Homo sapiens: one gene and its partners. The protein of the gene in region 2 purifies or fractionates together with the protein of the main gene of each other region. This does not show direct contact. Each region holds a gene or a part of one and is shown on either strand. Other genes may lie near its edges.

Region 1 (6,469 bases), about 69 Mb from region 2:
CAGGTAATTATCTTAGCAAGCCCATGAGGGGGTCATTAATTCCACTTTACAAACGAGGAAACCACGTCTTAGATCACTGCCACGAAAACACAGAGCTGGGATTTGAACCCACTTCCCTCCTAAGGCTTTTGCCTTTAACGTGTTTGTGTAGGGAGAAGAAAAGCTTTTCCATAAATGACAGGTTTTGAGCCCATCAGTTCATTGAAGAGGAAGTGTGTAGCCATCTCGGCTTAATTGGAAGACATGTGAAGGTGATGGGTAAATACGTAGCTGACATGTGTCACATGAGTAATATAGGTGTTGCCCTGTAGACTCACTGTGTTGCCAACAGTGAGCAAGTTTTTCCCCCAAGGCTCTTTACCAGCTAAATAGGCAGAAATCTAGGGGGACACTCACCTTCCTGGATGGAAAGAGGGAAAGAGGAAGACCTTGCAGGTGAGTTGCCTGGGTCTGAAAAAGACAGCAATTGCAGCCTATTCTTTTTTATTTATTTATTTTTTGAGACGGAGTTTTGCTCTTGTTGCCCAGCCTGGAGTGCAATGGCACGATCTTGGCTCACTGCAACCTCCACCTCCCAGGTTCAAGCGATTCTCCTGCCCCAGCCTCCTGAGTAGCTGGGATTAGAGGCATGTGCCATGACGCCCAGCTAATTTTGTATTTTTAGTAGAAATGGGGTTTCACCATGTTGGCCAGGCTGGTTTCGAACTCCTGACCTCAGGTGATCCACCTGCCTTGGCCTCCCAGACTTCTGGGATTGCAGGCATGAGCCACCGTGCTCAGCCTGAAGCCTCTTCTTATGTAATTCTGTTCCATGCATGAATTGTAGATCTGGATGAGGTGGGAATAGAGAGCCTGGAACCCTGGCAGTTTGGTGAAAATGATTGAGAGCTGTGCATTTGGATTGATGCAGAGGTGTAGTCAGCGCACTGCCCTCTCTAGCTGGTTAGACATGCTGTAACTAGTTCAGCCTGTATTTATAAGCTATTTTTAATGGATTCGTTGCCAAGGGAACTGCTAAAAACTGAAGAAATAACATAGATAGTGTGTTTAGCTAGTGCCAGCTGCTGTGACAAAATACCATAGTCTGGGTGGCTTAAACAACTGACATTTATTTCTCATAGTTTGGGAGGATGGGAAGTCTAAGATCGAGGTGCTGGTAGATTGGTGAGGTCCCTTTTCAGGGCTGTAGATGGCCACTTCTCGTTATGTCCTCACATGACCTTCCCTGGTGCCTGCATGAAGAGAGAAAGCAATCTTGTGTTTCTTCCTCTTATAAGGGTGCCAATCCCAGCATGAGGGCTCCACCTCATCTAACCCTAATTACCTCCCATAGGCCCCACATTGGGGGTGAGGGTGTCAACAAAGGAATTCTGGGGAGACACAAACATTTAGCCCCTAACAGATGGTAAGCGACAGAGTGATTACCACAGCCAGCCCACCAGAGCCCAGAATCAAATAACATAAACCAACAACCTCAAGTTAGTAAAAAGAAAAGTCCCTTCACAGACATTTGGACAAGGCTGAAGTGTTATGAATTTTATATTATTCTACACTTATTTTATTTTATTATTATTATTATTTTTGAGATGGAGTCTCGCTCTGTCACCCGGGCTGGAGTGCAGTGGCGCGATCTCAACTCGCTGTAACCTCTGCCTCCTGGGTTCAAGTGATTCTCCTGCCTCAGCCTCCTGAGTAGCTGGGACTACAGGCGCACGCCACCACGCCCAGCTAATTTTTGTATTTTTAGCAGAGACGGGATTTCACCATGTTGGCTACCATGGTCTCGATCTCCTGACCTTGTGATCCACCCGCCTCGGCTTCCCAAAGTGCAGGGATTACAGGCATGAGCCACCACGCCCGGCCACTTATTTTTTTTAAACTTTCACTGTTAGTGTTTTGAATCAGCTTTCCCTGTTCACCTTGTGTGGTGTTAAGTTTTTTTATACTAATTATAGACCAGTATGGCTTCTTGATTATCACAAGTATTTATGAATAATTATTACCTTTTTTTTTTTTTGAGATGGAGTTTCGCTCTTGTTGCCCGGGCTAGAGTGCGATGGCACGATCTCAGCTCACTGCAACCTCCATCTCCCAGGCTCAAGTGATTCTCCTGCCTCAGCCTCCTGAGTAGCTGGGACTACAGGCATGCACCACCACACCCGGCTAATTTTTGTATTTTAGTAGAGGTGGGGTTTCACCATGTTGGCCAGGTTGTTCTCGAACTCCTGACCTCAAAGTATCCACCTGCCTTGGCCTCCCAAAGTGCTGGGATTACAGGCATCAGCCACCGTGCACGGCCTGATTATTGTCTTAAAAGGTGAAGCTAATGTTTTAAAGTAGGGGGAAGTAAGACATGACTTCAACCCTATATTGAATTTGTGGTTCAATTTACAGAAAATTGATGTGAAAATATGTGTGTGTGTGTGTGTGTCTGGGTGTGTGTGTGTGTGTATTAAATAAAGCACTTGCAAGAGGACCTGGTATACAGTAAGCACTTAACTGGATATTAGGTCTTAAATAGCTATTATCTTTATTGTATTAATCCACCTTATCTATGAATATTATTTTTCTTCACTTGTTTGTGTCTTATCTCTTTAATAAAGTTTTATAATTTTATCTGTAATGTGATTTTACATGTTTTGTTAGATTTAGTCCTAAACATTTACTCTTTTCTTCCACTTTTACATAGCAAGTCTTAAAAACACTTTTTTTGTTTGCTGTGTAAGATTGGTATTATTTATTCTTTAATTATTGATAGAACTTGCCAGTAAAAGTATCTGGATTTTCTTTGTAAGAGTCTATTCAAGTTTTTATGTCCTCTTACATAATTTTTAGTGAGTTACTTTTGATTAGTGAGTTAAGAGATTGCTTACTAATGAAGTTTTATTGAACCCAGAGTGAGGGTCAGTTTTTTCTATGGAATGTTGCTGATGAGACATTTTGTGTCAAAATGTAGAAGAGAGTGGACTTTGCAGAAAATTCTGCAAGAATTGGAGAAGATGGCATGGCAGAGGGAGCGATACCATCCAGTGCAGGGATGGGAGACAGGGCTGGTGGAGGGATGCCTTCCATCGGGGGGAAGGGGCTCCGGTTAATCAGTATTCCATTGCCCTGTTGGGGGCTTTTCTGCTTTTCAAAGTGCCACCCATAAGCTTTCCCGGGTGGGTGGAGACTGTGAGTAATATGTGTGCACTTATGTACAAGTGCTGTTCTGAGGGGATGAGGGAAGAGCTCCATCCAGGAGCATGTACTTAGGGAACTGCTGAACAGTGGGATGGAATCAGTTTTAGGGGAAAGGCAGAAGGCCAGGAGAGGATCATGAGATGTCTGTAGAGCCAAGAATTAATCAGAGGTGAAACAGTGGCTTCGAGAAGGGGGTTTAGAGGGAAGGAAAAGGCCCAAGAAATGTGAAAGGAACAGCACTGAGATTTGACAGTAGATAGGAGAGGAGGTGAGAGGTTGGGAGTCTCTACCCTCAGACCAGGATTGTGAGTTGCAGGGTACACAGGGGTTCATCTAACTGGGAGCACCTCAGGTGTCCACATTGAAATCCTTCACATGCATCGCCTCAGGAGTCCTCACACTGGTATGAGCCTTCCCACGGGGAGGGGCAAGCCCTTCCCATGGTAGATGAGGGTAGGGGAATCAATTTCCAGATCCTGTGAATTATATCTACAATCAGCAAGTTCTCCGGTCTCACCATAAACATTTCTTCTTTGTACAGAGGAAAGGCTTTTGTCTGTCCACCCCACATCTTACTAGGGGCATTGCCCTTGGAGGGAAAAACATACAGGGACCCAAACAATGAAAAATGCTGGTGTTGATAAAGAGGGTGATGTTAATGACAGGGTAAAATGGTTGTACAAGTCAGTGGTTCCAACTCTTTGTCTTACATTAAAATGAAGGGGCCTCCAGTGAAATTGTTGCTGATAAATCATTAAAAATACTTTTTGATGACAAATCACTATGTGAAATATATTGCCTGGAGATTCAAGGAATAAGTGAAATTACTATAACTCCCATTTCTATCTATTTGTTTGTGTGAAAAATTCCTCAGGGCTTATTTAAAAGAAAGAAAATTGATACTGAACCTTGTCTTATTCTAGCAATATGTGAGATTCATTCAGAGTTTTATGGATATTTTATGGGGTTCATTAAGCATTTGATTTCAAATAAAATTTCACTTTTTAAGTTCATGAATTATAAAAATATATAGCATATCTATTTTGTTATGATCAATTGTATATAAATCATAATTGTAATGATAACTCAATCCTGAAAACATTTCTTCACACTTGAAAGCTTAAGAAACAAAACAAATTTAATTGATTCAAAAGAAATACAGTAAGTGAGCGATAGCCATAAAAATACATTAGGATAAAATTACATAAGTAAAATAATATACATATGTGTTCATGAATAAAAAGAGGAATAATACAAAAATGTTTAAATGGATAATGGTGGATATCAAACCAACATGGCATTTAGATCCCGTTACACACTTTTAAAAGCATAATGTAATCATTTTATTTTAAATGTCAGTGTTTAGAATTCAATGGAAATGATGTCTTTCAGAACAAATTAAACTTATGATGAAAAAGTTTACCTGTCAACTTATAGTTCTGTGAAGGGTCCATAGCTTTTTAAAACTCCATTAGGGGAATTTAAGCAAGAAAACCTTGAGGGCCGCTGTGTTATCTAAAGTTATCTGTTCCCACCAAGTGACGTAGGTAGGTACCATATAATTATTTCCAATTTACAACTGAAGACAGGTCAGAGGAGTTAAATGATTTGCTTATGGTCACAGAACTAGAGAATGGCCGAGTTCCAATTTGACCCAGGTCTGTTGGATTCTAAGCTCAGGGTGCATCTGCCACAGGGCAGCCCCTCTCCTCTTGTGAAAGTGTCCTAAATCCTTACGTTCATGGACCAGCAGCTTAGGCATACAGAAGCTTGTTGGGAATGCAGAATCTCAGACTCTAACCCAGACCTACTGAACCAGAATCTGCATTCAAACAAGATCCTGGAGGATTTGCACATACATTAGGGTTTGGGTAGCTCTTCCCCAGAGCACACTCTACTCCTTTCTCTTGCACTTCTGCCCAGCTTTGACCCAGGGACCACTTAACAGCCCTCTGGGATGGTCAGGTCCCAACAGTCCAGCTGTTCATTTTTGACACCATCCCTCAGTGTATTGATATAAGTAAGTAACCTGGTGTTCTTTTGTGACCTTTCCAGGATATTTGGCCTTGACATTAAAGGCAGAGACTGTGGCAATGAGGCAGCTAAGTGGTTCACCAACTTCTTGAAAACTGAAGCGTATAGATTGGTTCAATTTGAGACAAACATGAAGGGAAGAACATCAAGAAAACTTCTCCCCACTCTTGATCAGAATTTCCAGGTGAGCTTACAGAGAGTTTACCTTCACTGCTACTAGTCACCCTTCTCTTTCTGGCTTCCTTCCCAGTTGATAAAGAGCCTCTCTTGGGACCTCAGTTAAGAAAATATGATAATGGCCCTGGTGAGTGATAATGAGGGCACAGCCTAGGCAGAGGTACCAGGGGATGGAAAAGAAGGTGGATATGAGAGGTGTCTCAAAAGTGGGATCTCTAGGGTGTATGGAGGATTGAATATGGGAGATATTGTGGAGGGGGGAGCCAGGGGTGACTCCCAGGTAGATGGAGATGCAAGAGAAAACTGGCTGGAGAAACAAAAGTGAGAAGTTTGTTTGGGACTAAATCCAAGTTTCCTGGAATTATAGAAGCGGACTTTGTTCTGACCCGCCCCTCACAATCTGTGACATGTGCTTATTTCAGGTGCTGGCGAGGCGCCTCCCCCTAAGGAAAACTGTCCCCTGAGCACCTACAGCACCTGGCAGCTATTTTTCAAATTATCAGATAATACAGAGTGCCGACATGTACGATGGTTTATACTAGGCTCAGTGCAAAAGACCAAAGCCTCTGATTCTGCCATGAGCTAAGGTTTAAAATACAAGGACCTCAGGGAATTTCTCTCCATAGCCCCTAAACTACAAGCTCCTTGAGGGCAGGGGTTTTTATCTGCTTTCTTTACTGCTGTTTCCCCACTAGAACAGTGCCTGGTAGGTGCTCAGTAAATGCCTAGTGAGTGAATGGTGTTGTTGAGGAAATTATTACTGGAGTATAGCTGATTGGCAGCAGGTCCTCGCTGTTTGAGGATGATGGGGGAAGGGGGTCGCTGCTGGAGTGGGAGTGGGAACCCAGGAAGAGGAAGCCTGGTGAGTGACATTGGCCCAGAGCCGGCCCTGGCTGCAGCCCTGTCCCTGTGTATGGGCAGGAACTGCTCCAGCTCCTGGCCACTGCAAGCCCAAACTCACATCTCTCTCCTTCCTGAACACTGCTCCCCTCTTCTGCACTGAAGAGGTTTTGCTTCTGGACATTACTTAGCTTTGTAGTTGGTCTAGGCCATTTTGTGGAGTGGTGGGGCCTGA
Region 2 (6,469 bases):
CTCTGCGGTAGCAGGAAGGTGGCCACTCCCTCCACAAAACTCTTTCCTTGGTTTCTGTGCCCTCTTTCTCTTGGTTTCCTCTTATTTCCCTGGAGGGTCCTTCCAAGTTTGGGCTTCTCATCCTGTGCCATCAATTGTTAATGTCACTCTGCTCTCTTTAGACCATTTCATCCACATATGTGGGTTCAATTACTACCTATATGCTAATGACATCAACAATGCTGCATCTGGCCTGATTCAGAAGCTCAAATCTTATTTAGACCACAGCAGTGGACTTCTTACAGGCTTTTGTGCTGAGTTTCTCTTTGACACTGTATCTTCATTTTGCTGCCAAGCAAATTTTAACATGTTCCTCATTATATTTCCTTATTCCACATAGTTTCTCAGCCTCCCTCTCCACTCAAACGTCTCGTGCTGCCTCCTCCAACCTCTCTCAACTGAGGTCCTTGCTATTTCACTAAAAAAGGAGAGCATTCAGAGAAAATATCCACAAGCTTCTACACATTTGCCCACCTTCCTCCACCTGTGCCTAAATGCTTGCTGTTCTCTCCTGTGACCACAGATGAACTGTCTCTGCTCCTAGCACTGAAGTCTTTCATAAAAGCACTGCTCCACAAGTTCTCCTTGCTTCTACTACATGATTAACGTTTTCTTTCCTCTCTACTGGATAGTCCCATCAGCAGACAAACATTCTCTGTTCTTAAAGAAAACCCTTCCTGGATTTCACTTCAACTACTTCCCATTTCTTTTCTTCCTTTTAAAGGAAAACTCGAGTGTCAATATATCTGTCCTCAAGTTCTCTTCTTAAATCCACTCTAACTGCTCACATCAGAGTCACCAATGATTTCATACTGCTCAATCCAAAGATCGATTCTCAGTTTTCATCTTACCAGATGTCCCCACAGTATTTGGCACAGCTGATGATTCCCTCTTCTCTGAAACACATTCTCCATAGCACACCCTCCTGGTTTTCCTCTTTCCTTTCTGGCTATTCCATCAGTCTCCCAGTTGCTGGTTTCTTCACATTTTTCTAACCTCTAAACACTGGAGTGCCTCAGGGATCTGTCCTTCGCCCTCTTCTCTGTTCTACCTCACTTTCTTGGTGATCTCAAGTCTCATTCACGGACTGGCTTTAACTCCTATCTAGATGCTGATAACTTCCAAATTAATAGATCCATTTAGGACCTTTCTCAACTGCCTACATGGATCTCCATTTGATGTCTAATAGACATCTCAAACTTAACACTGAGCTCCTGATTCACCCCCTTCCCATAATCTTTGCCATCTCAGCAAATGGCAATTCGTTTTTTTTTTTTTTTTTGAGACAAGGTCTTTCTCTGTTGCCAGGCTGGAGTGCAGTGGCGCAACCATGGCTCACTGCAGCCACAACCTCTGGACTCAAGCAATCCTCCCATCTCTCAGCCTCCCAGTAGCTGAGACTACAGGTGCATGCCACCATGCCCGGCTAATTTTTGTATTTTTTGTAGAGAAAGGGTTTCACCATGTTGCCCAGGCTGGTCTCAAACTCCTGGGCTCAAGTGATCCACCAACCTCAGCCTTCCAAAGTGCTGAGATTACAGGTGTGAACCACTGTGCTCTGCCTCGACTGCATTCTCTTACTCCCTTAGTCATCCTCTCTCTCACACTGCACACCTAGCCTGTCAACAAATCTTATTTGCTCTACCTTCAAATCATCCAGAATCTGACCACTTTTTCTCTTTGCAGTTCTATGACCCTGCTCTAAAACACCATTATCTTTTCCCTAGATTACTGCATTGCTTAATTACGTTCCTGCCTTTGCCATTGTCCATTCAGTTTATTCTCAACACAAGAGCTGGAGTAAGTACTATGTGCTAGATGCTACTGTGGCACTAAAGACACAAAAATGAAGAGATAATGTGTTGAGTAGCTACTATGCCAGGCAAATTACATAATTTTATTTTACAGTCATATAACCCTGTAAGGCAGGAAATATTAATCCCATAGAAGAGTACCCATGCTTGAAGAGGTTATCTAATCTCTAACCCAGAGTCTGGGTTATTCTTGCTTGTAAAAAACCTTGTAAAGTGATTTTAGAAATCCTTCCCCACTCTTCCTTTTACCTAAGCTCTTAGGGTAACAGCACCTGTATTTTTATTCTTTATTTTGATCAACATATTCAATTCAAAATTAATACTGGTAGAAAGTACTGTAGGTGGTTAAAAAAACACTGAAGACTAAAAAACTAAAGATAGGTGATAAAAAACTGAAAACTAAATATCTGTATTTCCAGATATTACAATCTAGTAGAACAAAGCAAGCTGGCTTTAAATAAGATTTGCTTAAAAATGAGTAAATGTAACTTATGCCATAATTTACCTCCAGGTACAAAAATTCAACCCAAATAATTATAATAAACAAAAATGTATTTCACCCTGGGGGGAAAAACTGGCTATATCCTGGTAAGGCTAAAAACATACTCATTAATACAAAACCTACTGTGGAATAAAACTTAGGCTTTCAGGGAAAGCACAGTCAATCTGGAAGAGTAAAGAGAGAAAGGAGAACATCTAGCACCGAAATCTCACTGAGGAGCAGATATAGTCAGGTAAGGGAGGCTGGAGGTAGATTTCTTACAACAGTCATCCTCTCTTATCCTCGAGGAATATGTTCCAAGAACCCCAGTGGATGCCTTGGAGTACTGAAAACTATAGGTTTTTTCAATCTGATAACCAAGATGGCTACTAAGTGACTAAGAGGCGGGTAGCATATACAGCATGGATATGCTGGACAAAGGCAGGATTCTCGTCTGGGCCAGGATGGAGATTTCACCATGCTAGTCAGAATGGTGCACAATTTAAAACTTAAGAATTGTTTACGTATGGAACTTCCCATTTAATCTTTTTGGACCAGGATTGACTATGGGTAAGTGAAAGCAAAACCACGGAGAAGGGTAGACTACTACACTGTCATACAGATGACCAGAATTTGCATCTGGCCTCACAGCTTTACTGATCAACAGAACTGAATAAAGTTCTTCAGAGAACTACCAGAAGTTTGCCAAATCTATTTTTTCTATATCCTGGTTTTAAACAAATTTAATCCACCTTCTTGCCCGGACTCAAAAGCCTGAGCAAATAATAAAACGGCCTTTTACTACCCGAGGTGGGGGATGGGTACCTCTTTTCAAGGGTGTCGTCTATTTTGGGTCATTAGTTACTCAGTGAATTCAGTATATCATTTTTAGAGACTATCAATCTGAGGGAATACTGTTCTCTCCCGACCTTTTTAGAATGTAGGACAGAAAGGGTTGAGGTTAATGTAGGCTGTTTGTTTTCATTTATGAGGTTCTTTTCCCAAGTCATTGGATAAGCTTCTCTTTTTTTAAATACACTGCAAATAAAAGCTTTCACCATCCTGAAAGTTTGGATGGTATTATATAAGCATCGTTGTATATACCAAAGGAAAGGAAACAAGTTGTTTCATAAAGGAGATTTTTGACTTAAATAATTCTTGAATACACACCTCCCAAACTGCTACTTTCCTACATTGAGATGGTTTATTCTTGGTGTCTAGAAAGAATTTGACTTCTTTTGTCCCCTGATTACTTTAGATATATATATTTTTTGAGACGGAGTCTCACTCTGTTGCCCAGGCTGGAGTGCAGTGGCACGATCTCAGCTCACTGCAACCTCTGCCTCCCGGGTTCAAGCGATTCTTCTGCCTCAGCCTAATGAGTAGCTGGGACGACAGGCACCTGCCACCATGCCCAGCTAATTTATGTATTTTTAGTAGAGACAGGGTTTCACCATATTGGCCAGGATGGTCTCGAACTGCTGACCTCATGATCCGCCCACCTCGGCCTCCCAAAGTGCTGGGATTACAGGCGTGAGCCACTGCGCCTGGCTTAGGTATTTTCTTATATGACCACTAAAGTGCAAAGCTTGTTTCCATTATTAATGCATCTTGGTTAAATAGTGCTAGCTCTTTCTTGTGTGCTGAGCACGTTGGGGACAGAAGGAGGAAGAAGAATTTCTACTTGGAAATATTCATAGTCTAGGAAACATAAACACCAAAACAGGCTGGGCACAGTGGCTCATGCCTGTTAATCCCAGCACTTTGAGAGGCTAAGGTAGGAGGACTGCTTGAGACCAAGTATTCAAGACTAGCCTGGGCAACATAGTGAGACTCTGTTTCTACAAAAAAAAAAAAAAAAAAAAAAAAAAAAAAATTAGCTAGGCGTGGTGTTGCACACCTGTAGTTCCAGCTACTCAGGAGGCCGAGGTGGGAGATGGCTTGAGCCCAGGAGGTGGAAGCTGCAGTAAACTGATGACACCACTGCACTCCACCCTGGGCAACAGAGCGAGAATTTGTCTCAAGGGGTTTAAAAAAAAAAAGTATAGGGCAAGATGTGTGTAGGTTATATACAAATAATATGCATCTTATACAAGGGACATGAGCATCTATGGATTTGGGTTCTGCAGGGTTCCTGGAACCAATCCCCTGCAAATAACGAAGGGAGGGACAACTGTATAAATTCTTGGTCAATGCGACAGTTGAAAGTAGCTAGAACCTTAAGGTTTATTTCTTAGATGGTGTATAGTTGAAAATCATCTCATTAAAATACAACTCACTTTTCTTCCGCAAACCTATACTACATGAATGAACTGCACTAAATGGACATTTATTCAAGCCAATAAATATCGAATTCTGATGTGTGCTTGACCCTCGGGACACAACAGTCAAGATAGATTTGGCAGCTGCCTTCATGGAGTTTCCTGTCTGGCAAGGAAGATCTTGACAGGCAGGAGTCTTTAGGTCTTAAGGGCTTTGGGAAACTGAAATCTAGCCCTGTGAACAAGAATAAACTGGATCTGTATTTTCATGCTGTCTGCTTTTAAAAACTGGCCATAATTGATGCTTATGGGGCATAGAAATCACAAGATTTTATAACTAGAAGGGACTACAGAACTTATTTGATTCCATTAATAACGTTGCAATTTGGGAAACTGCGGCTAAGGGATAGAAAAGGATTGATCTAAGATCACACAGCTCATTAGTCATTTCTACACAATACAGTGTGCAATAGAAATAAGTCTGTTTTGATGGCCAGTCATAATCACACCTCTTTACAGAGGCCCAAAGGACTAGCAGCACTTTTGTTTTCCAGTTCTGACACTATCAAGATCAAGTGCAGAGGGGTCTCTGCAGCCAAGGCCCCTCAATCTCGACCCCCTACACTGGGTTGAATTACATTGCTATGGGTTTCCACAGAATCCCCAATATCCCTTGATAACACATGCCATGCTTGTCATTCTTGATTAACATCTGTGTCCGTGGTGAGGAGAATGAATTGAAGGCAGCAACCGTGGCTGCAGGAGACCAATCAGGGCCTAGTCCAGGTGTCAATGATGGAGATGGAGAACAGATGAATTGGAGAGTTTGTTGTTGTTTATTTAGAGACAGAGCCTTGGTCTGTCACCCAGGATGGAATGCAGTGAATGATAATAGCTCACTGCAGCCTTGAACTCCCGCAGTCGTCCGGCGTAGCTGAGATTATAGGTGCGGTTTTGGCCGACTTCTATTTGAAGCAAAAGGTAAATTTCACTAACTCCTCTTCAAACATTACAAATGAATTTGTGCTAATTGAGTTATCAGCTGATGTCTCAAAAAATGAGACTCTACTTGATCTGTCACTATGGTTTTGTTCACAATTTTCATATCCTTTCAGCTATAAGTTTCTCTTAAAGAGAAATGGAAAATAATATAATGTAAACGGGGATAACTGCATAGTACTGACTGCTAGCTTGTGTTTGATTTTATTACTTAAAAATTGAATGGGAAGGAGGAAAATACTAGAACTTAAGACCACAGTTTCTAGGGGAAGCTAAGAAGAGAAGATGAGGATCATTGTTCAGTGAGGAATGTGGTTAGATAATGGTTTTCAGTGAAAGCTAACTTTGAAATTTCCTGACATTTGTATTGAACAATTGCCAAAAACTATCTGATATGCATCGCTAAGGCTTACTTTATCATTTAAAATGACAGGAGTCAAATAGGATGTGATGAGAAGTCAAATCACATTGTTAGCTCCATGAAAGCATAGATAACTCATTCCAGTATCTCCTAATAACCAGAACCTACAAAGAACCTACAACATGGTGACATGCTTGAATCGAAGCAGCTCAATGTTCTCATCCTTGGTACGTTTATTTTAAATTCACGAGAAAAAAAAAAGTGTCAACCCCTTTCTCTCAAAACAAGGAAAGGGTCTAAAAGTCAGTCTTTGAAATAGGGGTCTCCAGCCAACCCCCACGATGATACCTGGATTAAGGAATGAGGGATACTGGAAAAACAAAAACCCCAATGTATTATTCTGACGACTGTAAACAGCCATCCTATTAGCGATAACTAAAGAAAAAGCTGGGGAAAGTTAAAGGCAAAGTGATATACGGATGGCAGCTCTCAGTCTCAAAAAGGCCCAGTGGAA
Region 3 (6,469 bases), about 61 Mb from region 2:
ATTAATAAAATTTCACCTATTTATTTTATTTTTTGATGTGGCTATAGAAAATCTAAAATTGCATTTGTGGCTCAACTTATATTTCTATTGGGCAGTGCTGACCTATACAATCTATTTATAAATGCCCACAAATTACCTTTTTCTTCTTCTTCTTCTTAAACTGATAAATACAAATTGTATATATTTATGGTGTACAACACATTTTGAAATACATATAAATTATGCAATGGTTAAATCTAGCTAATTAACACATGCATTACCTCACATAGTTATATTTTGTGGTGTGAACACTTAAAATGTACTCTCCTAGCAACTTTCAAGTATGCAATATTAACTATAGTTACTATGCCCCACAAATTATCTCTTAACATATAATGTCATCTTCCCGATGAGTGCCAGAATTCAACATTAAGCTTTTTTCTTTTATGAATTAAATATTATATTAGGAATTACTAATAGTAATTAAGTGCCATTTAATTTTAATATCCCTTTAAGATTTTTAACAAGGAAGTGTAAGGCATTTCAAAGTGTTCAAATATTAAAAAAAAGTTGTTTTCAGATAGCTATAAATTATACAATTTTTCATCTATATTTTACTTATATACAATTCTAAGTCAAATGTCCCACCAGCAAGGATAGATAGCATGATTAAACCTGTAGCAATCCAAATCCCATAAAGTATTAGTTCTGATTAAGCCTGATTTTTTTCATCTTAGTCACTCAGTAAAGGGCAGCATCCATTTTGGTCAACATCATTGTACCAATGTCCAGCAGCCAAGACAAAGAGCCTTTATATGGTGGTATGAATAGACAATGAGAGCAATACGACACCACTTGAAATAAGGGGGGGGAGAAAAATGTTTTTATAATGCTAAGTTTTAAAACTAGGAGATGAAACTTACAAATTGTGTAACAACTAGGTAAAAGGATATATATGTAAGAAGAACAGGAAGGTAGAACAGAAAGGTCTCCTCTCTAGACCTTCTCAAGATATACCTAGGTTCAAACTTGGCTACTCCATTATTAAGTGGATGTGTTTCCTCACATGTAAAGTGGGAATATATACATCACAGGATTATTAAAAGAATATAGTAGATGCTTAATTAACGTCATCTGTCTTTAATACTAATAATTATATAATGGTAATAAGATTATGGGTGACTTCCCCTCCCTCACTTTCCAAATTGCTGTATTTTTCAAGCATAAATGAAAAACTTACAATTTCATACTAGTACCCCTCCTCAAATGAACCTAAAATTATTTTTACTAGCTGTCTTTGACAAATTTGCTTATAAGCTTAAAATCCGTGTTTGTGCTAGGAGGAGGTTGGTGGTAGAAAGAAAATTAAAGAGGGGGAACTGATAACTTTAACACCATACCAGCACAGACATATACAAAACAAAGTGTGGAGAGGAAAAGAGCAAAAGGAAATGCTGTTTGGGAAATTCCCAACTCAGACTATCCAATGAAAAGATTATATTCCACCCGCCTCAATCTAGCTACCTACCAGCCACTCCTCACTCTCATCTTGGGTTTATACGTACATTACAAATACGCATAGCCACTCACCTTCTTCTCTCTACTAATAGTCACCACATGGCCTCACAGTCAAAAATTGAAAGGAGAGTGAAGAAATTCAGCATGTTATAACAAAGACAAACCAATGCACTGGCTGGGAAATAACTTCATTAAAATGTACTCATTCCCAAGTGTATCTACTCATCTGCTGACAGTGCTGGGAATGCATTCCTGAAATATTTAACCTGGTTATAAGATTCTGCTGCTAGAATCAGAGAAGGCACACTTTGATGCCTACCTCTCACTTCCTCTATAACAACCTTGTCTTTATCGGCATGGCTTAAAATGGGACATTAGCAAAAGTATACAACTGCAAATCACTCACAGGTGAAAATCTCAAGTTAATGTAGAAAGAATAATTAAACAATGGTAATAATAACTATTATTACTCTAACAGGTAACACTTACTTTACTCAGCATTGTATGCCAGAAAGCTAAGGACTTTACATGAATTATGTAATATCAACCCTAAACCTCTTTGAAGATGGTAATTACTAATTCCACTTGCCTAGTGCTCACACAGCTAAATCTGAACCCTGTCAATTTTACTTCAAGGCTTACACTTTCAAACTTTATCATATCCTGCCTCTTTATATATGCATAATTACAATTGCAATTGTGATTCTATGTGTGTGTGTGTCTGTGTGTAAAGTATTTAGTGAGTCAGTAGCAAACAAAAGGCAATTAATTCCAACTCTGTGAAGCCTTTTACCCACCTTCACAAACCAACAATAAATTGGGAATTACCCCTCTCCTCCCCAATAAATGGTGCTCTGAAAGTACTAGTTTTACAGTCATACATCACTTAAGCATGGATGTACATTCTGAGAGATGCATTCTTAGGCAATTTGGTCACTGTGCAAACATCACAAAGTGTACTCAAACAAACCTAGATGGTAGAGCCTACTTACACACCTAGGCTACTTGGTATAGCCTATTGTTCCTAGGCTACAACATGCTCCTGTAAAGCATGTTATTGTACTGAATACCACACACAACTGTAACATAACTGTTTAGTATTTGTGTATCTAAACATAGAACATAAAATACAGTAAAAATACAGTATTACAATCTTATGGGACCACCATCGTAAATGCAGTCCACTATTGACCAAAGAACATCATTATGCTGCACATGACTGTATTTAATATCTTCCTCAAGAAACTAATGAAAGAGATACTTTTAAGTAAAATATTAATCTTTTCAAAAAATTAGATAAAATAATTGATAGACTACAGGTAAACATGCTTTGTAAAGTGTAAAGAATTTTAATCAACACTTTATTAGGTATTTTTAATTTTCAGTTGTCTATTTGGCTCAAAATATACTTACGTTTCTAGAGTTTGAACAAAGTCTTTTTTATTTGAGACAGGGTCTCACTCTGTCACCCAGGCTAGAGTGCAGTGGCACGGCATCTCTGCTCACTGAAGCCTCTGCCTCCTGGGTTCAAGTGATTCTCCTGCCTCGGCCTCCCAAGTAGCTGGGACTACAGGCACGTGCCACCATGCCCAGCTAATTTTTGTATTTTTGGTAGAGACAGGGTTTCATCATGTTGACCAGGCTGGTCTCAAACTCCTGACCTCAAGTGATCCACCCACCTTGGCCTCCCAAAGTGCTGGGATTACAGGTGTGAGCCTCCACACCCGGCCTATATAAAGTATTTTAAAAGCTGTATTTTCAACTTAAAAAAAAGATACACATACCAAAAGGCTTAACACATAAAATCTGCCTTCATCACTCTAACCCAGCTTCAATTCTACCAAAATCTAGGCTAACAGAATTAAGCTTCAAGGAACAAATCATTTATCTTTATTTTTACTTACAAAATCTCAGTTCAAAGGATTCCAAATGAAATGGGAAGACCACAGCTAGCAGACAGAAGAGGTAGGGCCAAGATTAGTAGGAGAGGGGAAAGAAAATCTCCCAGAAACGCTAATCTTAATCCAGTCTCACTTTCTCCCAACCAAGAGAAGTGTGCACTGCTGCTACTTCTGCCCTGGCAGGCTCCTCCTCCTCTTACTCTTGAAATCCTCTGCTTTTTTCCTCCTGGAAAGTTACTCTCACAGGGCTGTTTTTCTTCCTAACATCTCTCAATTGTCAAAGGATTTCTTATCTTGAAATTAAAAGAATAAAAATATACTAACTTTCCATAATCACATAAGAGTTCCCAGGAAGTTCAAAAAGGATAGTAACTACTGCCAGGTGCGGTGGCTCACGCCTGTAATCCCAGCACTTTGGGAGGCCAAGGCGGGTGAATCACCTGAGGTCAGGAGTTCGAGACCAGCCTGGCCAACATGATGAAACCCCATCTCTACTAAAAATACAAACATTAGCCAGGTGTGGTGGCCGGCGCCCGTAATCCCAGCTACTTGAGAGGCTGAGACAGGAGAATCACTTGAACCTGAGAGGCAGAGGTTGCAGTGAGCCAAGATTGCACCACTGCACCCGCGCCTGGGAAACAGACCGAGACTCCGTCCCCCAACCAAAAAGAAAGAAAAAGAAAGGATAGTAACTCCATGGTTCAACTTGGCAGATCTGCAAAAAAAATTATAATGCAGCAACTAAGGCCTTAGAGACAAGAAAACACCTTTTTCATGGGAACTTCCTCTCCCTGAAGAAAGACAGAATTTAATTTAGAGTCTTACTACCCTCTGGGTCTCCTGTGATCTTCATGTTTGTTTCTTAAGGGGAAGAGGAGAAATCTTTTAGCCAACCAGCAGGGTGAGCTAGTGCTAGCATCAGTTCCATGATTCTCAAATCTCCCAAAACTCAATGGTGTAAACGGCTTGCACTATTAACAGCAGCTATTTATTTCCCTCTAATAAACCTGAATCAAAAACACCACTTCTAGAACTGCTTCAGTCAATGCTATACCTGACAACTTTACTCAATATTTACAGATTCTCCATATACGAAATAGACATTCTCTCTACCAGAAAGATTAATAAGTGTAAATAAAAGCTCATTTGAATATGTATCCATAGTATTACAGTATCCACTCTTCATTCTCGTTTTATTTTACAAGGTTACTAATTTAAAACATTTAGAAAACAGTTTAAAAAATGGTTAAAACAAGTGCTCTATAAAATCAGGGTTAGATAACTCAACATGCCAATTTCTCCATTTGCTGCAAGCTACAATTGTCTTAAGACCTGACTGAAAAGCCTTCCCAAGAATAAGATTCACTTTTCCTTCCAGAATCACATCCTGAGAAAATGGTCTAAATAAGTAACACTAAAAAACAATATTTAGGATGACAGAAAAAAAATGGACCTGACCTTTCTCTAGATTGCAGATATCCCACCACTTCTATTCTCTTTGAAACTTTCTTTTCTCCTCCTGCTACCCATTAACAGTCTCAATTCAACCAAAACACTCTTATAACTTGAATGACAAACTAAAACTGGAAAATGTTTAAGGTTGGCAGGTGACAGACCACTTTATAACTACAAATAACCTGAAAGTGACTCTAATTTTCACAAAATGAAAGTGTAAGTAAATCCACTCACATAATGTTGAAAATTATAAAACAGCTTATCAACTAACAAAAATCAGTAATTTAAAAGCACCTTATATGACCCATAAAAACTTTTAAAACCTTAAAACAATTTAACTTTTTGCTAAATCTGACATTCAAAGAAGTTAAAAATCACTATAGGGTTCCACCATAAATGACTGTCACTACTTGTTCAATTTCCTAACAGACCTTAGAGGTACCACTCAGTAGAAGTAGTAGTCTTAAAAAGTTGTTTTAAAGAAAGGGAACATTCTGAGTGGCACATTCGTTTATCCAACCAAAACACTATTACAAAATGAAAGACACCATTATTTTCAGCATTGATCTCATTTCTTTTCCTACATAATAACTGGCAATAACAGCAGTTATTTCAAACTTTCAAAGAAATTTATCAAGTCCCTGGTTGTTGTTTTTTAATTTTTCAATTTCTGGGTCAAGACTGCATTTGGAAAACCTTAAAATTCAAAAGCAACATTGCTCTGAAACTATCTGATATTTCTGTATTTTGTACCTGATTTTGTTTCACTGAAAGTCACTTTAAAAACCAAGTTAACCACAGAATATGAAAGTTTTTTTGTTTTTTTGTTTTGAGATGTAGTCTTGCTGTGTCACCAGACTGGAGTGCAGTGCCACGATCTCAGCTCTCTGCAACCTCTGCCTTCCGGGTTCAAGTGATTCTCCTGCCTCAGCCTCCCGAGTAGGTGGGACTATAGGCACCACCACGCCCAGGAAATTTTTACATTTTTAGTAGAGACGGGGTTTCACCATGTTAGCCAGGATGGTCTCGATCTCTTGACCTCGTGATCTGCTCGCCTCAGCCTCCCAAAGTGCTGGGATTACAGGCGTGAGCCACCGTGCCAGGCCAATATGAAAGTTTTTAACTTATTGTCACAGAAGTTCTCATGAACCTAACAATATTTAATTAACAAGTATTCTCAATAACATTCCCTTGTTTTTTTAACCATTAGTTGTAGATATTCACCTTCTCATCCCAGCAATATGACAAATACAAACAGCAATGGGTAGAGGCTGAAAGGCAATTTTCCATTATGCCACTAACTTAATCATCTCTGGTCCTCAATATATTGTAAAAGAGGAGGGTAAGAGCAGTTGTTCTTTGATATTGCTTCCACTGTAAAACTTTATGATCCAGGAATACATTTGCTAATGTTAATGCATCTCCTATTCATTAATACAAGACTGTTCTGTATTAGAAGCTAAAAAAAGAGAAAATATATATCTGAAAAGAACAAGGAAATGAAAGTTAACTAATGTTGAAAAATTCAAATTTCAGTTTGAACACAGAGATCTACACAGTGATCTAATGTGTTTAAATATCCCTCCAACCAAGGAATTCTGTTAATTGCCAACACA
Region 4 (6,469 bases), on a different chromosome or scaffold from region 2:
TCCCACTTCAGCCTCCTAACCAAGTGTAAATAGACTATAGGTTCATGCCACCACATTCGGCTAATATTTTTTAAGTAGAGTCAAGGTCTCGCTTTGTTGCCCAGGCTCCCTGAGATCTTTACAAAGTAGATTCCTTCACATCCTCAGGTCTCATCTATCACTTCTTCAAAAAGGGTTTTCCTAAATAACCCACCTCAAGTTGCTCCCTCTTTTAGCAAATCAGTTTAATTGTCTTCATAGAGCATACGTGAAGGCTGGGCGCACTGGCTCATGCCTGTAATCCTAGCACTTTGGGAGGCCAAGGTGGAAGGATCACTTGAGCTCAGGAGTTCAAGACCAGCCTAGGCAACATAGTGAGACCTTGTCTCTATTAAAAAAAAAAAAAAAAAAAGGAACAGACACAAAATGCAAAATGTACTTTTTAAAAATATCTCCCCAAGTAGAATATAAGCTCCATGAAAGCAAGACCACTGTCACCACTATACCCCCCAAGTAGCACAGTGGCTAGCATACAGTGGGCACTCAATGAATAACTAATGAATGAAGGAATTAGTATTTTTCAGACATAAAGATGAAAGGACATGACCATGAGTACCAAAAGCCACCCTATCCATGGGAGAAACATGGTTGACCCCCTCCCCAACTCACTTTTTTTTTGAGATGGAGTCTCCCTCTGTCACCCAGGCTGGAGTGCAGTGGCACGATCTCGGCTCACTGCAACCTCCGCCTCCCGGGTTCACGCCATTCTCCTGCCTCAGCCTCCCGAGTAGCTGGGACTACAGGCACCCGCCACCACGCCCAGCTAATTTTTGTATTTTTAGTAGAGATGGGGTTTCACCGTATTAGCCAGGATGGTCTCGATCTCCTGACCTCATGATCTGCCCGCCTCGGCCTCCCAAAGTGCTGGGATTACATGTGTGCTGGGATTACATGTGTGAGCCACTGTGCACGGCCAATGCCCAGCTAATTTTTGTATTTGTAGTAGAGACGGGGTTTCACCATGTTGGCCATGGTCTCAAACTCCTGACCTCAAGTGATCCACCCGCCTCGGCTTCCCAAAGTGCTGGGATTACAAGCATGAGCCACTGCGTCTGGCCCTCAACTCACTTTAGCTGTAGCTCCTTGTCTCCAGCCCTGGCCGCATCCATCTTGACCCGAACCCAGAAAGTGACTGGCTCAGCCATGTGTTCAGGGCTACAGGGTTGCAGGGCTGCCAGCCACAAAATCACCATCTTGCAGCCCTGGGCCTGTTTACCCAGTTTCTTCAAACTCTCTACTTGTAGCCGGAAGCACCTGTGCAACTGACCAGAGAAAGGGAACAGACCAAACTGGAGAGGAACCAGTGAGTGTGTATGGTGGAAGGGGATATGCATGCAATAGGTACATACACCACATGAGGGGGCGGGGTTGGCAGGTGGGCCTCCTGAGCCACACCCACCCAAGGCAGGAGACACCTAAGAATGAAATACTCTGAGTGCCTTCAACTCAGAGGCTGCAATCCACTCCACCCCTATGTTCATCATCCACACCCTTGAAAACCTGCTTCTCCTGTAATCCTTCTCAGCAAATGGCACTGCCTTCTCCTGAGTAAGAAATGTGGGGCCATCTCTGATGTTCCCTTCTCTCGCTCTCCCTCCCGCCAGTCACCTACCAGGTTAATCCTTGGCTTCTCGCACCGATCCACTGCATTCCATCCCTCGTGCAGCTGCTTCAGTTCAGCCCACCCTTCCCTGCCTAGAATACTATAGCAGCCTGATTACCCGGTCTTTTCTCCTGCACTCCATTCATCACAGCGAAGTCAGGGAAATCCAAAATGCCTGTCTGCTGTCATGCCTCCACTTAAATCCTTTAGAGGCTTATCATCTCAGTTAAGATGAAACCCAAGCCCCTCTATGACTCATCTTGCTTGCCAATCCCGCCAATGCATCAGTTCACAGGTATTCTTGCTTAAGAACACTGGTTCTTGCCCAGCGCGGTGGCTTGCGCCGGTAATCCCAGCACTTTGGGAGGCCGAGGCGGGTGGATCATGAGGTCAGGAGTTCAAGACCAGCCCGGCCAAGATGATGAAACCCCCGTCTCTACTAAAAATACAAAAATTAGCCAGGCATGGTGGCGCATGCCTATAATCCCAGCTACTCAGGAGGCTGAGGCAGAGAATTGCTTGAACCCAGGAGGTGGAGGTTGCAGTGAGCCGAGATCGTGCCACTGCACTCCAGCCTGGGTGACAAAGCAAGAGCAAGACTCAGTCTCCAAAAAAAAAAAAAAAAAAAAAAAAAAAAAACCAAAAAACCAAGAACCCAGGTTCTCACTCTCCTTGCTCAAAGGACCACCTGGGGGATCTTTGAAAATATTCAGATGTGAGATGGAGTCTTGCTCTGTAGCCCAGGCTGGAGTACAGTAGCACAATCTCGGCTCACTGCAAACTCCACCTCCTGGGTTCAGGCAATTCTCCTGCCTCAGCCTCCAAAGTAGCTGGGATTACAGGCACATGCCACCACGCCTGGCTAATGTTTGTATTTTCAGTAGAGACGGGGTTTCACCATGTTGGACAGGCTGGTCTCAAACTCCAGACCTCAGGTGATCCACCTGCCTCAGCCTCCCAAAGTGCTGGAATTATAGGCGTGAGCCATCACGCCCGGCAAACACTAGAGATTCTGATGCAATTAACTCGGGGCAGACATTAGAATTTTCTTAAAGGTCACTCAGGTGATTCTAATGTGCAGCTTGGCTGGAAACCAGTAGCTTAGGACCAGGCTAAATATAAAAAGTGAGTCAGGCCGGCTGCGGTGGCTCACACCTGTAATCCCAGCACTTTGGGAGGCTGAGGCAGGCGGATCACCTGAGGTCTGGAGTTTGAGACCAGCCTGGCCAACCAAAATGGTGAAACCCCGTCTCTACAAAAAATACAAAAATTAGCTGGGCGTGGTGGTGGGCACCTGTAATCCCAGCTACTTGGGAGGCTGAGGCAGGAGAATTGCTTGAACCTTTGCTGAGGCAAAGGTTGCAGTGAGCCAAGATTGTGCCACTGCACTCCAGCCTGGGCGACAGAGCGAGACTCGTCTCAAAAAAAAAAAAAAAAAAAAATGAGTCAACAGTAAGTAACAGTACAGTGAGGTTTGGGAAACACTGCTCCAGATACTGGTGTCAACATGCTGCTATTAACCTCCCACTCCAAGGCAGGGTGCTGGTGAGGCCCTTCCCCGCTCCCCCCGCTCCCCAACCACATAAGCTCCTTTCCTGCATCTCTCATTCCCTTGTACCTTCTCAGGAGGCACCTCGGGATAAGTGCCTGGCTTCACCAAACCCAGGTGCTGACAGAGCGGCTCAGAGATGGCACAGGCCTCGGCATAGAGCTTGTGACTATAGAAGCTGTAGGCCAAATTACTGGTGTAAGAAGCTGCAGGGGAGAAAAGGCACAATTGACCATAGGAAAGGCTCCCACCACCCTCTCCTCCTGGAGAGGCAGCAGAGATCAGCTGGATCTGTGGTCAGTTCAGCAGCTTCCAGATCAGACAGGAACCCCTACTGCTAGGAATGGGGAAGGGGCGGCTCTCCCCTTCCTGCCCCAAATAGGCCCATGCCCTTCACACCACTCAGCCCATCTGCACTCATTTTACAAACGAGACCCCCTCCTGCCTCAGCACTGGCTGTTTCTTCTGCCAGGGATGTTCTTTTCCAGGAACCCACATGGCTGACTCCCTCACATCCTCCAAGCCTTTGCTCATGTCACCCTCTCAATGAGGTCTACCCTGACCACCTGATTTAAGGTGGTAACTTGCCCCCCGTCATGCACCTTAGACTCCCAATTCCCTTTCTTATCCTGCTCTACTTTTCCTTTCCCCCACATTTCTTATCACGTTCTAATATGTTGATAATTCACTTATTTACTGAATCTGTTTATCTTTTCCCCCCAAACTAGAACGTGGCTCCATGAGGGAAGGAAACTTTGTTTTGCTTACCGACACATCCAAGTACTCCAAATAGTGCGTTGCACACAGTGAGTACTCAACAAATTTTTTTTTTTTTTTTTTGAGACAGAGTCTTGCTCTGTCGCTCAGACTGGAGAGCAGTGGCACGATCTTGGCTCACTGCAAGCTCCACCTCCCGGGTTCACACCATTCTCCTGCCTCAGCCTCCTGAGTAGCTGGGAGTACAGGCGCCTGCCACCACGCCCGGCTAATTTTTTGTATTTTTAGTAGAGACGGGGTTTCACTGTTAGCCAGGATGGTCTCGATCTCCTGACCTCGTTATCCGCCCGCCTCGGCCTCCCAAAGTGCTGGGATTACAGGCGTGAGCCACTGCGCCCGGCAACAAATATTTGCTGAATAAATGATAATAACTTATTTATGCAGCTTCTTGGCCATCAACATAGATGACTGGGAGAAAATAAAGTCAGTCTTCAGTACTCTGTGGGAAGAATTCTCCTTTTTTTTTGAGATGGAGTTTCGCTCTTGTTGCCCAGGCTGGAGTGCCCTCTTGCCCAGGCTGGAGTGCAGTGGTGCAATCTTGGCTCACTGCAACCTCCACCTTGCAGGTTCAAGCGACTCTCCTGCCTCAGCCTACCAAGTAGCTGGGATTACAGGCATGCACCACCTTGCCTGGCTAGTTTTCTATTTTTAGTAGAGACAGGGTTTCAGGGAAGCCAAGGTGGGCAGATCACTCGAGTCCAGGAGTTCAAGACCAGCCTGGACAATATGGCCAGACATCATCTCTACAAAAAATACAAAAATTAGCCAGGCATAGTGGTGCGCGCCTGCAGTCCCAGCTACTTGGGAGGCTGAGGCAGGAGAGTCGCTTGAACCTGCAAGGTGAGCTCGTTGCGGGGCTGAGGTGGGAGGATCGCTTGAGCCTGGGAGGTTGAGACTGTGTTGAGCCGTGATTGTGCCAGTGCACTCCAGCCTAGGTGACAGAGCAAGACCTTGTCTCAAAAAAAAAAAAAAAAAAACACTTAAATATACAGAAAGGTCATTTGTAATGATTTCTGGATTCTGATAAGTGAAGAAAAGGAAAAAAAAACATTAAAAAATATAGAAATAAAAAAATATGTTGAAAGGTCATAAGGTTGCATATTAGGTGCAACTGTTAATGCCAAGTTAGATTCCAGTCGAGGAAATAGTGTCTGCTGTTGTAAGTTAGCTTCATCACTTCTCTACTGGTGTTAAACACAGAGTAGCTGGTACTTATAAACATTTCTCTCACTGCCTCCTTGAACCATAAGGAACCCTCACAGTGGTCAGAACCACGCAGCAAGTACTATTCACCTGCCTAATGGGTGATGACCCTCCCACAAACTCTGTGCCTGGGACCCAGGGCACTAACCGGTCATCCCCATGTGGTCCGTCAGCTCTTGGCCCGACAGGCCCTCTAAGGCCTCCAGCATCCAGACAACGGTAGATTTACAACTGTCCACTAGTTGGGTCAGGTCAGCCAAATCAACTATCTGAAGGGACAAGAAGGGTTTGAGAGTGAGGAGTCATGCTGGGTCCAAGATGACCTCCACCGCACTCCACACCCAAAGCCAAGCAACCCCAAAGCTGTTTGAGGGCAGTGGAGCAACCCCAAAGCTGTTTGAGGGCAGTGGAGCAACCCCAAACCCTATGAGCCTAGTCCAGGTACCTTGATTCCCAGACAGTACCTGACAGCCTTGGGCAAAGTCATAAACCACCACAGTGTAGAGGTGAAGTCCCTGAAAGTACATCTGAAGAAAAGACTGCTGTTGCTTGGAGGAGCCCCCATACACCTGAGGAAGGAAGCGGAAGGTTGGTATGAGGAGTAGAGATAAAGAGGGCTCCAAGCTGAAGACTGACCCGGAGTCCTGGAGAGCTGACAGAGCCCAGGGAGCACGAGGAAGGACATCCAGAAGGGCCACTGCCCTCTCAGGATAGACTAGGCTGTTTGCTGGCTCGCTAGGCACTGTCCAGAGAGCAGCTTAACAAGGAGGGAGCCAGGACCTCCAGATCTTGCCAAATACCCTAGGCTGGTAGTGAGTCCACAGACCACGTCCCCACCCTACCTCCAGGTCCTTAACTCACACCATCATCCCGCAGCTGCTGCAGAAGAGAGCAGTACCCTCCAAGAAAAGCAAAGAGGCTCAGAATGGCATCAAGTCTATAGCGCCTCTTGGTGCCTCGTTCCAGGCCTGAAAGGAAGAACTGGCAGCTCTCATACAATGCCCGAAGTGGGGGTGATGGTGCCTCCATACTCTTGCTCAGGACAGCTGATGCCTTGATCAGAAGCTTGGCCACTGCCTGAGGTCCTTCCTCCCCAACCTGCAGCAGCTTAACCCCCAGCTGACATAGCTGAAGGCTAGGGGCTAGATTGGTGTTCCTTAGGTAACTGTGAGCCTTCTCCACTGCGCTGATGGCTTTGTCATGGTGGCGGCTCCAGCAAAAGCGACGGCAGTGTTCCAAGGTGAGCTCCAAGAGGCAGAGGGCCCTCTGGGGAGAAAGAAGCCCAGAAGAGCTCCCTC
Region 5 (6,469 bases), on a different chromosome or scaffold from region 2:
CTGGTCTTGAACTCCTGACCTCAGATGATCCACCTGCCTCAGCCTCCCAAAATGCTGGAATTACAGGCGTGAGCCACCGCGCCCAGCCTAAACAGGTACTTCTTATTGGCAAAAAATAAGCAGGATGATTAGCTAATTGTTTGATTTCTTCTAACTAAAAATGAACTGATTGAGAAGGAAAAATGATACCAAAAATAACTTACAATTCTTTGATCCACAGCTCTGCCTGGAAGAAAGTAGAACTATGGGTAGGAAAAGAAAAATTTGACAAATGAGCAGGAGGCTTATGAGAAAATTAAAATATTTTCATCAATAAAAACAATCATTTAAATTGTTTATATGAGTGCTTTACAAGTATGGAATAAGTAAAAGGAATCTAAATGACATAAAATAATTGTAACTAGGAATTAAGGAGACACAATCCTTATGCATACATATTAGTTAAAATCATATGGATACATATTAGTTAAAAAGGTGACCCAAAGTTCAGCAGAGATACTACATTTGGCATAGCTCCCTACTTGCATGAGACCAACATTACGTGAAAGAGGACATCACTTCTCAAAATAATACATTAAGCTAGAACATTGCTCTTCCCAAATGACTCAGATTGAAAGATTTATTAAAAATCCCCACACACAAAATAATCTACATCAAATGGCTAACAAGCCAATGAGCCAAAGCAGAGAATCAGCAACACAACTTCCTTCCAAAGATGACAGGCCAATTCTAGGTCCATGTGGCTCTGCTGACAACCCAAGTGATATGCTGAGCAGAGCCACAGACATGATTAATTGTCCTAGAGCCTCTTGTTTTTCTCAAACTTCCTTATCTCCAAACTCCTAACTAGGCAGGATCTATCACAGAAACACAAAGAAGAAGAGTGAACACTTTTCCAAAGAAAACTATTAAATATAGAGAACAAGTAAACAGAGCATCAAATTGGGAGTTAAGAGACCTGGATCAGAGGCCAGGCATGGTGGCTCATTCCTGTAATCCCAGTGCTTTAGGACGCTGAGGTGGGAGAATCGCTTGAGCCAAGAGTTCAAGACCAGCCTGGGCAACATAGTGAGATTCTGTCTCTTAAAAAAAAAAAAATGATCTGCAACTAGAATAGTGCTTGGCACAGAGTAGGCATTTAGTGTTGTTTGTTTGTTTTTTGACTCTCACTCTGTTGCCCAGGCTGGAGTACAGTGGCACAATCTCGGCTCACTGCAACCTCCACCTCTCGGGTTCAAGAGATTCTCCTGCCTCAGCCTCCTGAGTAGCTGGGATTACAGGCACCCGCCACCACACCTGGCTAATTTTTTCTTTTTTTTATTTTTATTTTAGTAGAGACGAGGTTTCACCATGTTGGCCAGGCTGGTCTCGAACTCATGACCTCCGGTGATCCATCCACCTTGGCCTTCCCAAAGTGCTAGGATTACAGGCATGAGCCACCATGCCCAGCCATATAGTATTTCTTGAATAAACAAGTAATGTAGGGACAAGCAGTTTTCTTCAATGGATCAAGGTATCCACTGGCTCCGGAAAACAAAATGCAGGGAAAATCTGCTTTTCCAAAGAGATGCATTATTTCTCATATAATTGAGGCATATAGTAATAATAACTGCAAATGTTTTTGAGCACATACTTAGTGCTCTACATGTAAAACTCTGCTCTAGATGTTTTATGTATTAGTTAAGCCTAATGAAAATCCCTATACTATTTAAACCTCAACATAATATATAAAAAAGAATTATTACTCATACTGTACAGAAATGAAAAAGGAGGTTCAAAAAGATAATTTCTCTTGAAAGGCTAGGATTAGAAATCTTATCTGTCCAATTCCAAAGACTGTGTTCTTTCGACTGTGCCTTTCAATAGATGAAAGCATTAAAAAAAAGCGGGGGAGGAATAAGTACTTGGGCTACTCAAGAGAGCACTTCAGGCTATCTAGGAAATTCATTTGTTTAACAAAGATTTATTTACTGAGCACCCATCATATGCCAAGCACTATGACCAGCAATGGGTGACAGATACAAAAGTATTAGTAACAAACAAGGTAGAAGGATGGAGGGAAAAACTAACATTATCTGGCAAAGTCAAAGAAATCTTCTGAGAAAAAAAAAATAACACCTGGATGAGATTTTGAAAAGCAAAATTAAGGCCAGGCACAGTGGCTCATGCCTGTAATCCCAGCACTTTGGGAGGCTGAGGTGGGTGGAACACCGGAGGTCAGGAGTTCGAGACCAGCTTGGCCAACATGGTGAAACCCAATCTCCACTAAAAATACAAAAATTAGCTGGGTGTGGTGGCATATGCCTGTAATCCCAGCTACCCTGGAGGGTAAGGCACGAGAATCACTTGAACCCGGGAGGCGGAGGTTGCAGTGAGCAGAGATTGTGCCACTGCACTCCAGCCTGGATGATAGAGCAAGACTCTGTCACAAAAAAAAAAAAAAAAAAAAAAAAAAGAAAGAAAGAAAAGGAAGCAAAATAAGAGCTTACCAAGTAGACAGAGAGAGAAAGGGACATCCAGACAGAAGGATCAGAATGTATAAAGGCAAAGAGGTATGACACAGCATAGCATATTCTGGGAAATAAAAGCAGATCTTCATTACTGGAACTTAACTGAGAGGCAGTAGTGGAGAATTAAGAGTAGAGAGCCAATAAACCAAGCCTCAGCAGAGTAGGCACCAACTTTGACAAAGAGCATTGCTCAAACAGCCTTACCCAACAGACCATTTCTCCTGCCATCTCATTCTTTAGTCATCACTAGGGGAAATCCTCCGTAAAGGAAAGGCAGTCTTAGTAAAGAACCATTAAGGAACTGAGATCAACTCTTTACCTGAGAGATCAACTTCTTCCCAAGAAAGTTGCATGCATCTTGTGGCATTTCATGTGAAGCACTTATAAAAATAAGTGTTTTATCTGTAAGTTAATCTTCACAATTAAGTGTAAGGTATCAATACTGGCATTTTATTGATAAGGAAACTGAGGTTCATAAGAGTAACTTGTCCAAAGCTACATGAAGCCTTTTCCAACCCAAGATCAGAAGGCAGATCTGACTCCAAAAAAGATGTAAGAAATAAAGAATCCAAACTATGAAGTCTCCCCAAAAGACTTAACAAATAGAGAATTTTAAGAAATATTTAAAGCTTAGAACATATGGGGAGCTGCAAAGAAGTAGGGGAACTGAGATGAGAAAGAATATTTCATTACTCTTAATCTTCTCAACGGAAAACTGATATTATTCTCATCCTAGCAATTGAATTCCCAAAGCCATATATGGCAAAGGCATAGCAATCATAGTAATGGTTACTATGGATTACTATTACTGTATTACAGAGGAAGAAGTATTTGATACCTCCAGATAAGTAAAGTTTCATGCAGAAGTTCACATGTGAGTTGAGACCTAAAAGATAAAACACTACTGACAGACAAAGTTGAGGTACGGAGGACATTCCAGGCAAAAAGAACACTGAATGTGAAGGTAAGAAATGCTTATTGTATTTGCAAACTGAAAATAGTCCAGCTTATAAAAACACATGAAAGAGTCCCATATTTCCATATGGCTCCCTCTTACCTCCATCATGTCTCTGCTCAAGTCACTTTATCAGAGACTTTCCATGACCACCCTATACAAATAGTATCCTCCCAATCCTACTCTATATATTACCCTGCTTCAATTTTCTTCATAGCACTTATCACAAGGCATATACATTTGTTTATCCTTCCCCTCAAGTAGAATGCAAGCTCCTTGAGCATAGGGACTTCACATTGTCCTTCATCCTTCCCCTCAAGTAGAATGCAAGCTCCTTGAGAATAGGGACTTCACATTGTTCCCTATTATCCTCAATATTTATACTAGTACCTGGCACACAGTAGGCTCTCAGTAAATATTTGTTAAAAGTGAGAAAGTGAGGCTTGTGAAAGAAGTGCTTTGTATACCATAGTAAGGAGCCTGAGCTTAATTCAATGTCTGATAAACCACCCTTGAAGGAGGTTAACAAATAATCATTAAACCCCTTTAATGAATGATCAGACATGAATTCTGAAAGATCACTCTGATTGCAGCATGGAAGATGGACTAAAGAACACAGCAGGCCGGGTGCAGTGGCTCACACCTACGATCCCAGCACTTTGGAAGGCCAAGTTAGGAGGATCGCTTGAGGCTAGGAGTACAAAACCAGCCTGGTCAACATAGCAAGATCCCGTCTCTACAAAAGAAAAATTTAAAAGTTAGCCAAGTATGGTGGCATGCATATGTGGTCCCAGCTGAGGCAAGAGGATCACTTGAGCCCAGGAGTTCAAAGCTCCAGTGAGCCATGATTGTGCCACTGCACTCTTGCCTGGGTGACAGAGCAAGACCCTGTCTCAAAACAAAAACAAAAACAAAAACAAATGAAAAAAGAGCAAGGCAGAAAAATTGTTTCAAGAACATGGTATGGTGGAAGACGGAATGAAGAACAAAATAGAGGCTGAAGGAAGAACAATTATAAAGCCACTAAAATAATTCAAGTAATACGTGAGAAAGGTCTGAATTGAGGTAGTTTTACATTATGTAACTTTTAGTGAAAAAGCTGTGATTAAAGAAAGGGAAAACAATATGTTAAGAAGAAACTTTTAGGCCAGGCATGGTGGCTCACGCCTGTAATCCCAGCACTTTGGGAGGCCGAGGCAGGTGGATCACTTGAGGTCAGGAGTTCGAGACCAGCCTGGCCAACACAGCAAAACCCCATCTCTACTAAAAATACAAAAATTAGCTGGGCGTGGTGGCGGGCGCCTGTAATCCTAGCTACTCGGGAGGCTGAGGCAGAAGAATTGCTTGAACCAGGGAGGTGGAGGTTGCAGTGAACCAAGATCGCGCCACTACACTCCAGCCTGGGCAACAGAGCGAGACTCCGTCTCAAAAAGATATATTAATTAATTAATAAAGAACAAGCTTTTTCCAAAGTTTACCTGGGAGTTGGAGTCTGGGAATCTTTCACTTTCAGTAAAATCACAGAGTCTGATCCTAAAGAAACACAAGAGCATTTCATTAGTAATAAAACTCCACAAAGTTATACTTTCTAGATATCTTAGTTTAAGTTCCCATACTTTGCTATATTTTATTTCCACAAAAATAACATAAGAACAAAGGTTAGATGGGAGAGAGAGAGAGGCAAGTCCATTGTCACTGAGAACAGAAATAGGTCTTAGTGAAGAATTTGCTTCACAAATAAGAAAATCCCTGGGAAATAACAAACATATTTGCCCTTCAGAATTTCCTCCTAGGCTGCACTTGCTCCCTGTGCTTCCTGTCTGTTTCAGGAGAACAAGAACATGGCAGGATTCCTTAAAAGTCTTCATGGTAGTCCTCTATCTGCAATTTTGGTTTCTATGGTTTCAGTTACGCATAGTTAACTGCGGTCCAAATATATTAAATGGAAAATTCCAGAAATAATTAGTAAATTTTAAATTGCATGCCATTCCAAGTAATGTGATAAAAATCTCTATCCAGCTCTATTTCAGGCATGAAATCATCCCTTTGTCCAGCATATCCATGTTGTATGCACCACCTGTCATTTAGTAGTCACCTCAGTCATCCAATTGACTGTCTCAGTATAGCAGTGCTTGTGTTCAGTAACCCTTACTTAATAATGTCCCCAAAAGGCAAAAGTAATGATGTTGGCAATTCAGGTATGCCAAAGAGAAGCCGTAAAAAGTGCTTCCCCAGCCTGGCCAACATGGTGAAACCTGTCTCTGCTAAGAATACAAAAATTAGCTGGGCATAATGGCTCACACCTGTAATCCCAGCTACTCAGGAGGCTGAGGCAGCAGAATCGCTTGAACCCAGGACATGCGAGGTTGCAGTGAACCAAGATGGTCCCACTGTACTCCAGCCTGAGCAACAGAGTGACACTCAGTCTCAAAAACAAACAAAAACAAAAACAAAAACAAAAAACACTACTTCCTTTAAGTGAAAAGGTTAAAGTTTTTGATTTAATAAGAAAAAAGTAACATCTTCATTACAGTATATTGTTATAATTTTTGTTATTAGTTATTATTGTTGATCTCTTACTGCACCTAATTTATAATCATTAGTATGTATGTATAGGAAAAAACATGATGTATATAGGGTATGGTATATATAGTATACTCTCCATGGTTTCAAGCATCCACTGGTGGGGGGCGGGTCTTGGAACATATCCTCCCCCCACAGATAAGGGGGAACTACTGTAGTTCATGATCTACAATGCGACTGAATTAGGTGAAAGAAGGGGTGGGGGAATGGAAGAGGGAAAGAAACTGGAAGAAGGAGGGAAGGGGGACAGGGAAGGAAATAGCACCCCAGGAGGTGTCTAAAAAGTACAAATTTTATCATTCTATTATGTATTTTCTCTGTTGAATACTACTCAAAGGCAGGAATCATGTTCTTCTAAAGTGCTGTCATTAGAACCTCAGAGTATTTATTACATGGTACAAGGAAAGTAATTAAACAGTGC

What was found.
Region 1: the proteins of TDRKH (region 2) and MTARC2 purify together in Homo sapiens (affinity purification with mass spectrometry; one large-scale study listed by BioGRID and IntAct). This does not show direct contact.
Region 3: the proteins of TDRKH (region 2) and ZNF644 purify together in Homo sapiens (affinity purification with mass spectrometry; one large-scale study listed by BioGRID and IntAct). This does not show direct contact.
Region 4: the proteins of TDRKH (region 2) and ESPL1 purify together in Homo sapiens (affinity purification with mass spectrometry; one large-scale study listed by BioGRID and IntAct). This does not show direct contact.
Region 5: the proteins of TDRKH (region 2) and SENP1 purify together in Homo sapiens (affinity purification with mass spectrometry; one large-scale study listed by BioGRID and IntAct). This does not show direct contact.

What each region holds. Positions count from the first base shown.
Region 1 is NC_000001.11:220,756,420-220,762,888, forward strand, and holds part of MTARC2 (mitochondrial amidoxime reducing component 2 isoform a precursor), read left to right. Parts: intron 1-5,238; coding exon 5,239-5,401; intron 5,402-6,469. UniProt on the Homo sapiens protein: Catalyzes the reduction of N-oxygenated molecules, acting as a counterpart of cytochrome P450 and flavin-containing monooxygenases in metabolic cycles.
Region 2 is NC_000001.11:151,783,630-151,790,098, forward strand, and holds part of TDRKH (tudor and KH domain-containing protein), read right to left. Parts: intron 1-6,469. UniProt on the Homo sapiens protein: Participates in the primary piRNA biogenesis pathway and is required during spermatogenesis to repress transposable elements and prevent their mobilization, which is essential for the germline integrity.
Region 3 is NC_000001.11:91,013,906-91,020,374, forward strand, and holds part of ZNF644 (zinc finger protein 644), read right to left. Parts: exon of another isoform or gene 6,078-6,469; intron 1-6,077.
Region 4 is NC_000012.12:53,269,649-53,276,117, reverse strand, and holds part of ESPL1 (separin), read right to left. Parts: coding exon 6,033-6,469; intron 5,741-6,032; coding exon 5,636-5,740; intron 5,441-5,635; coding exon 5,320-5,440; intron 3,398-5,319; coding exon 3,261-3,397; intron 1,302-3,260; coding exon 1,108-1,301; intron 1-1,107. UniProt on the Homo sapiens protein: Caspase-like protease, which plays a central role in the chromosome segregation by cleaving the SCC1/RAD21 subunit of the cohesin complex at the onset of anaphase. During most of the cell cycle, it is inactivated by different mechanisms.
Region 5 is NC_000012.12:48,066,724-48,073,192, forward strand, and holds part of SENP1 (sentrin-specific protease 1), read right to left. Parts: intron 4,999-6,469; coding exon 4,944-4,998; intron 243-4,943; coding exon 204-242; intron 1-203. UniProt on the Homo sapiens protein: Protease that catalyzes two essential functions in the SUMO pathway.